3 separate regions of the Homo sapiens genome follow, and regions 1 and 2 are each linked to region 3. The links come from fine-mapping of genetic effects on gene expression. A gene starts in region 3. Each other region holds a variant in brackets. All regions are shown on one strand. Distances are between the middles of the regions.

The links. PIP is the estimated chance that this variant, and not a neighbour inherited with it, causes the effect.
Region 1: its variant is the best candidate, but not a certain one, in a credible set for the expression of LINC01187 in whole blood (TOPMed, PIP 0.54).
Region 2: its variant is the best candidate, but not a certain one, in a credible set for the expression of LINC01187 in NK cells (Schmiedel 2018, PIP 0.87).

Annotation. Positions count from the first base shown.
Region 1 is chr5:170,247,042-170,249,727 of GRCh38, forward strand. It overlaps LCP2 (lymphocyte cytosolic protein 2), which reads right to left. Exons shown (of 21, transcript NM_005565.5): 21 at 1-1,778. The coding sequence ends at 1,656. It also overlaps a transcript of C5orf58 not described here. Among named protein-coding and RNA genes, the nearest start is that of C5orf58, 15 kb to the left of the region's middle. The variant A/T (reference allele first, on the strand shown) is at 1,101.
Region 2 is chr5:170,242,863-170,245,548 of GRCh38, forward strand. All of the region lies in intron 3 of C5orf58 (chromosome 5 open reading frame 58), which reads left to right. Among named protein-coding and RNA genes, the nearest start is that of C5orf58, 11 kb to the left of the region's middle. The variant A/G (reference allele first, on the strand shown) is at 1,079.
Region 3 is chr5:170,198,085-170,200,770 of GRCh38, forward strand. LINC01187 (long intergenic non-protein coding RNA 1187) reads right to left here and starts at 1,057. Exons shown (of 5, transcript NR_108022.1): 1 at 658-1,057.

The sequences.
Region 1 (2,686 bases), 49 kb after region 3:
TTTTAGATATTTTTGAATTGTAAAGATAGAATACGGCAAAGCAAGACAAGTGGAGCTTACTCGATACTAGAACCTATGGTGTATGCTATCCTTACTACCTTGTACCTAGCTCACTTGTTTAACACAGAAGAGCCACTAAGTAAATACTTGCTGAATAGCCCGTTGTGTAGACGTGTAAATGAATGCAGGGTTTTCAGCCTTAAACTCCCAAGTTTTGGACCCTAAACTGAGAACTTCTGGTTGTTAAGGATGAGATTTTGTGAAACACCATTTTTATCATCAGTTAAAAGTCTCTACCTTCTGCATACTCCTTATTTTAACATATCATCAGTTTTAAAATGGTGACTTCTTAGATTCCTTCCAATACCCCTTTTATTAGCTCATGAAAATGAAGCTGCAAGATACTCTTTTCCATTTCGAAAACTTGTAGATTAAGCAGAGACGCCAAAAATTGTTGCTAATAAAAGTTGTGCAATAACAACCAAGGTCCCAAAGGGAAAAACTTGAAGAACAACTGATTGTCACTATTTGGCTGAATACCAGTTTTTTAATCTGGCTGAATGCCTATATTTTTTGTTAAGTGATATTTGTAAACTGGAGGAAAGAGTTTAATTACCTCAAAGCACTTATACAGCCTGTTTGGGAAGGATGAGGAGAAGGGACTTTATGGCAGAGCTGTCAGGGGGATAACAAGAGACAGAAGAGCCATATCTAATAGGAAAGTCTGATCACATTTAATCTAAAGTGTTGCTCCCTCGTCTTCCCAGGAAGCCTTTGGTAAAATCTATATCCCTGGACAATGCTTTTGGGGTTGGGAGAAGGTTGGTGGGGGGCTGTGATGGTTGGTGTGGGTGTGGAGATGTGAAGAAATGCCAACTTAACCCCAGATGTGTTCATTAAACCTAGACCCACGATACACCAAAGTCTCATCCCTAAATTTAAAATGTTTTCTTTTGGTATTTGTAGTTTAAATTTTCTTTAAGACAAAAATATAACAGTATGGACTAAAAGTCAATAAAGTTGTTTTAGGAAACCAAAAAAGTAAAGCAAAAGACTATTTTAATCCCAGAAGTTATCTCAACATGCATTTGTCTTTTCAT[A/T]AAAAAATTACGTAAAAATGCCCCCAGGAAAAAATACTAAATAAGAGTGAAATTATATTTTTGAAGCCTCTTAAATTATTGCTGCTGAGAAAACGAGGTTTAGTGATTTTCAAATTACATGTATAAAACTAATGAATGCCTCTGACTGACAGAGGTTTGGCTGTAAAAAACAAATCAGTTTTATGTGACACCAATAACTATTACTGTTTCAGTGTTTTAAAACTTGCCCCAAATTGTTTCTGTAGCTGTGTAAACTACTGTATTTTGAAATGGGCATTAAATAATCTTTTAAAAAATGAATTATTACAGTGCACTACTAGACTTCAAGTGTGAACATGACTCATGCACTTTACAAACATTGAAGAAGAATAAATAAATTATGGGATAGTTGACAGTCTTCATTTCAAACACTGTTTTTAAAGGAAAGGATAAAACCCTTGTGTTCATGGGGAGGGGTTCAGTTCAGTCCTAAGTGTTTGTCCATTGACCAAGGCTGATTGATCTCGTGTTGGCAACAGAGGCAGGAGGACGGTTCATTTGCTCGGCTATAACTTGCTATGGGTACCCTGCAGCATGCGTTAATGTGCACTGGTATCTGGAACCTCGGTTTTTCCCATCAATGAGCAGAAGTGGCATTTTCCTGAAGTAGTCAATAATATCTGACACAGACAGAAAGTCCTGAAAGAGTCAAGATAGGGAGATGAGTCAACATTGGAATGAAAAGCAGGAACTTCACTTTCAGTTTTTTTATCTGCATAATATATGCTGCCTCTTCAAGTGATGAGGATTGTGGGGGGAAAAAATGTAAATGTGGCAATTAGTTTAATGATTTCTGCTATAGAACTTTGAAAAAATTCCTCATAAACATCCAACAAACCATAGATAAAGATAAAATATGGGCCGGGTGCAGTAATTCACCCCTGTAATCCCAGCACTTTGGGAGGCTAAGGCCGGTGGATCACCTGAGGTCAGGAGTTTGAGACCAGCTTGACCAACATGGTGAAACCCTGTCTCTACTAGAAAATAGAAAAATATTAGCTGGGCGTGCTGGTGTGCGCCTGTAATCCCAGCTGCTTGGGAGGCTGAGGCAGGAGAATTGCTTGAACCTGGGAGGCAGAGGTTGCAGTGAGCCGAGATTGCGCCATTGCCGCACTCCAGCCTGGGTAACAAGAAGGAAACTCCATCTCAAAAAAAAATAGATAAAATATGTGCATGCGTGTGTATATATATATATATATATCTACATATCTATATATATATATATGTAATTTGAAATGCATATATTTTTAACTTCATATGAAGGGGTCATTTAAATAGTCACTATTACAATATTCTTGCCTCGGGTTGCTCTGTTTTTGGTTTTGGTTTTGGTTTCTGCATCTCTATTTCACCCCCAGTCATTAATAGTGTTAGGAAACATAAGGACTCAGGAGGTCAGACACGGTTCATGGTGTCTAGAGGTGGGATCTGCAGCATGGCACAGGAGTTCCTTCATGATCTCTCTGCTGTGTCCTCACTGCCACCTTCACACTCATAAAGGCTCAGCAACCAATATTTGCAGCCATAGCCTGGATCGCCCCAGCCTT
Region 2 (2,686 bases), 45 kb after region 3:
TGATGTTAGGGTGTCAATTTTGGATCTTTCCTGCTTTCTCTTGTGGGCATTTAGTGCTATAAATTTCCCTCTACACACTGCTTTGAATGCGTCCCAGAGATTCTGGTATGTTGTGTCTTTGTTCTCGTTGGTTTCAAAGAACATCTTTATTTCTGCCTTCATTTCGTTATGTATCCAGTAGTCATTCAGGAGCAGGTTGTTCAGTTTCCATGTAGTTGAGTGGTTTTGAGTGAGATTCTTAATCCTGAGTTCTAGTTTGATTGCACTGTGGTCTGAGAGATAGTTTGTTATAATCTCTGTTCTTTTACATTTGCTGAGGAGAGCTTTACTTCCAAGTATATGGTCAATTTTGGAATAGGTGTGGTGTGGTGCTGAAAAAAATGTATATTCTGTTGATTTGGGGTGGAGAGTTCTGTAGATGTCTATTAGGTCCGCTTGGTGCAGAGCTGAGTTCAATTCCTGGGTATCCTTGTTGACTTTCTGTCTCATTGATCTGTCTAATATTGACAGTGGGGTGTTAAAGTCTCCCATTATTAATGTGTGGGAGTCTAAGTCTCTTTGTAGGTCACTCAGGACTTGCTTTATGAATCTGGGTGCTCCTGTATTGGGTGCATATATATTTAGGATAGTTAGCTCTTCTTGTTGAATACATCCCTTTACCATTATGTAATGGCCTTCTTTGTCTCTTTTGATCTTTGTTGGTTTAAAGTCTGTTTTATCAGAGACTAGGATCGCAACCCCTGCCTTTTTTTGTTTTCCATTTGCTTGGTAGATCTTCCTCCATCCTTTTATTTTGAGCCTATGTGTGTCTCTGCACGTGAGATGGGTTTCCTGAATACAGCACACTGATGGGTCTTGACTCTTTATCCAATTTGCCAGACTGTGTCTTTTAATTGGAGCATTTAGTCCATTTACATTTAAAGTTAATATTGTTATGTGTGAATTTGATCCTGTCATTATGATGTTAGCTGGTGATTTTGCTCATTAGTTGATGCAGTTTCTTCCTAGTCTCGATGGTCTTTACATTTTGGCATGATTTTGCAGCGGCTGGTACCAGTTGTTCCTTTCCATGTTTAGC[A/G]CTTCCTTCAGGAGCTCTTTTAGGGCAGGCCTGGTGGTGACAAAATCTCTCAGCATTTGCTTGTCTGTAAAGTATTTTATTTCTCCTTCACTTATGAAGCTTAGTTTGGCTGGATATGAAATTCTGGGTTGAAGATCCTTTTCTTTAAGAATGTTGAATATTGGCCCCCACTCTCTTCTGGCTTGTAGGGTTTCTGCCAAGAGATCCGCTGTTAGTCTGATGGGCTTCCCTTTGAGGGTAACCCGACCTTTCTCTCTGGCTGCCCTTAACATTTTTTCCTTCATTTCAACTTTGGTGAATCTGACAATTATGTGTCTTGGAGTTGCTCTTCTCGAGGAGTATCTTTGTGGCGTTCTCTGTATTTCCTGAATCTGAACATTGGCCTGCCTTGCTAGATTGGGGAAGTTCTCCTGGATAGTATCCTGCAGAGTGTTTTCCAACTTGGTTCCATTCTCCCCATCACTTTCAGGTACACCAATCAGACGTAGATTTGGTCTTTTCACATAGTCCCATATTTCTTGGAGGCTTTGCTCATTTCTTTTTATTCTTTTTTCTCTAAACTTCCCTTCTCGCTTCATTTCATTCATTTCATCTGCCATTGCTGATACCCTTTCTTCCAGTTGATCTCATCGGCTCCTGAGACTTCTGCATTCTTCACGTAGTTCTCGAGCCTTGGTTTTCAGCTCCATCAGCTCCTTTAAGCACTTCTCTGTATTGGTTATTCTAGTTATACATTCTTCTAAATTTTTTTCAAAGTTTTCAACTTCTTTGCCTTTGGTTTGAATGTCCTCCCGTTAGCTCAGAGTAATTTGATCGTCTGAAGCCTTCTTCTCTCAGCTCGTCAAAGTCATTCTCCATCCAGCTTTGTTCTGTTGCTGGTGAGGAACTGTGTTCCTTTGGAGGAGGAGAGGCGCTCTGCGTTTTAGAGTTTCCAGTTTTTCTGTTCTGTTTTTTCCCCATCTTTGTGGTTTTATCTACTTTTGGTCTTTGATGATGGTGATGTACAGATGGGTTTTTGGTGTGGATGTCCTTTCTGTTTGTTAGTTTTCCTTCTGACACACAGGACCCTCAGCTGCAGGTCTGTTAGAATACCCTGCCGTGTGAGGTGTCAGTGTGCCCCTGCTGGGGGGTGCCTCCCAGTTAGCCGGGTCAGGGGTCAGGGACCCACTTGAGGAGGCAGTCTGCCCGTTCTCAGATCTCCAGCTGCGTGCTGGGAGAACCACTGCTCTCTTCAAAGCTGTCAGACAGGGACATTTAAGTCTGCAGAGGTTACTGCTGTCTTTTTGTTTGTCTGTGCCCTGCCCCCAGAGGTGGAGCCTACAGAGGCAGGCAGGCCTCTTTGAGCTGTGGTGGGCTCCACCCAGTTCGAGCTTCCCAGCTGCTTTGTTTACCTAATCAAGCCTGGGCAATGGTGGGCGCCCCTCCCCCAGCCTCGCTGCTGCCTTGCAGTTTGATCTCAGACTGCTGTGCTAGCAATCAGCGAGACTCCGTGGGCGTAGGACCTTCCAAGCCAGGTGCGGGATATAATCTCGTGGTGCGCCGTTTTTTAAGCCGGTCTGAAAAGCGCAATATTCAGGTGGGAGTGACCCGATTTTCCAGGTGCGTCCG
Region 3 (2,686 bases):
TGAAGCAGGGACTCCCTGCTTTTCTCTCAGAGATTTGGGGGTAAAGTTACCATCAGACCCTTCAGTTCAGCTGAAAACTCTGAGATGCCCAATACACTCCCATTTTCTACTTCAAGGAAACTTCACTAAAACAGAGGAAAAGATAATAGCCTTGATTGAAATAGAAAGGCGTTACAGAAACTGACACCAAACAACACAACAGACATCATCATCCCATCATAACCATGACGCGCTCATTCTTTCTTTACATCTTCATTCCTGCTAGGTCAAGGCAAGCCGTAGAAGTGGTTTTGTGACCACCATGATGGTTTCCCAAGGCAAATTTAGACAGCATATTTTCTCCTACCACAAAAAACTCCAGCCAGACTCTCCAGTGGTTGAATTCCTATTCCTCAAGTTACCAGCTGTGGAACTCTGTGCCTCAGTTTCCCCATCTGTAAAATGGAGATAACAGTAGCATCTACCTCATAAGATTGCTGTAAATATTAAATGAGATAGTGCTTAGCACAATGCATGGCACATAGCAAGCACTTGGTGGCCGATCAATGGCAAATACGAACACTGGCTCGAGCTTACTGCCATGGTTTATCTTAGCAGCTCCTGACTTGCCTGTTGAGAAAAAATGCTCCTAAACTCAGAAGTATTCAGAAAACCTACAGCAAGGTGGTGAGAGACTAGACTCTTCAAACCTCTGAGGTGCTTTTCTGTCCTCATTCCAGTTTTCTGCCCATCACATTGGCCAAAGAGCTCTAGCCAGAGTTGAAGCCAGTGCTGATCACTTTCCTGACAACCTGGCTGGCAGAGATGGGACCGTATGTAGCACAGGGAAGAGGTGTGTTTTCAGACAGCTTCCTCTCGGAAATCCATTTTGACTGTAGATCCAAAGAAAATCCTTCCAGGCTTCTTGTGCACACGCCAAAACCTGCACACATGTATGCATTTCTTCCTCTCTGTGCATCTCTCCTGCACATCTGGGCAAAAACCAATCTCTGCAGGTAGCATCTTGTGCATATAGCTGTCCGGCCCTATGATAAAATGCATTGTTTCTCTCTGAGTGAAGCTTAATGCACCTCAGCCTGGGGATTTATACTAAGCAATAAAATCCACAGGATAGAGAAATGCAAATAGATTGTAGAATATAATATTATCATTGTCAACATAAAAGACTTTTATTTACTGCCCCCCAAAAGAAAATACACCATAGTGTCGTTTGTTTCAGGGAATGCAAAAAAGGTTTCAACAACTAACAGGGCATGTTTCTGAGCAAAATATACCCCGTATATAATGTTGGAACACATATTGTCAGTGGCCACTCGTGTGTCTGTGTTCTTGCAAACAAACCTGTGGAATTGAGTCATGGAAGGTCACTTCCAGCCACCTCTCTGAGCCACACGGCACCTACCTGGCTCTGTTCACAAACAAACCAGACAATATAGACCTATTTGAAGGGAGAGACCCTCTGAGGCAGGCCACACTCCATCAGCACATCTTAGAATGAGGCATTTGAGTAGTTGCTGACTTGGCTTACTGGGGAATGGAGTTGTGGTGGAGGTTGATTAAACAGATGGTCCATGTTGCTTTGGGCAAAGGGAAAAGTTAAAGAGAAGATGTAGCAGAGCACATGGGAGGTGACAACTCCATCTTTTCTCTAGAAGATATCCCTACAACTCCCCCTTAATGCTCAAGGTCATTCCACCAATGCTTTTGTTGCACAGGGTATTGACAACTTACAAGACCAATTATTTTCACTGATTTGTTTGAATGATAAGTCTGTTGTTTTGTGTAGGGGTTTGGCTATGATATCAGACCCAGTCACAGCAATTGTTTCATTTCTGTCTACAAGGGCAAGATCTAAGTTTATAAGGCTTTAAACAGCCATAATTACCTGAATGACATTTTATGTGAAAAATATATTCTAACTGGTTCTCCCAATAGCCCTAGGAAATATACCCTAGGTGTTATTACGGCCAATTTACAGGTGAGAAAACCGAGACTTCAGAGAGGTGAAGCACATTATCCATGGCCACCCAGCCTGTAGGAGGGTGGCTCCAGAGGCCTCAGTCCTGAGCCCGAGCCTGTCCTGCTTAAGCTTACATCAGGAAAGCCCTTACGTGGCCTGTGCTGGGTGCTCTGTCATGGGGACATCTCACAGGTTTGGTAGGTTTTATCACTCCTATTTTACAGGTGAGGAAACTGATACTTAAAAGAGGAAAAGTGTCTGCCCAAGTCACACAGATGTATATAGCTTGACTGGATTCGAACCTAAGTCCTGACTCCACCGGCTGTGTGGTATAAAAGGAGAGCTTGAAGGTGTCATCATTATCCCCTTTACAGGCCACCACAACCCCTATCACTGAGGGAGTTTTATAAGTTTCAGCAACCACATCAGTAATCTCATTTTGCATCCACAAATTTCTATTTTGTCCTTGCAGCTCACTTGGACAGGGAATGTCCCGCATGTTTGAAAAGATGGTTCAGAAAGGAGCCTTTGGCAATCCCCAGGGTTTCTGCACCCAAGATGGACTGGAGGGATCATGACAACCAGTTGCAATCAAAGAAAAGAGGAAACCATATCCGAGAGTGGAAGCTGTTTTCTTGCTTTCAGGGATCAAATGTCATGACCCCCCAACTCAGTCCTAATGCATCCTCCACAGACATACTCTTGAGCTCTCACAATCCACCCTTC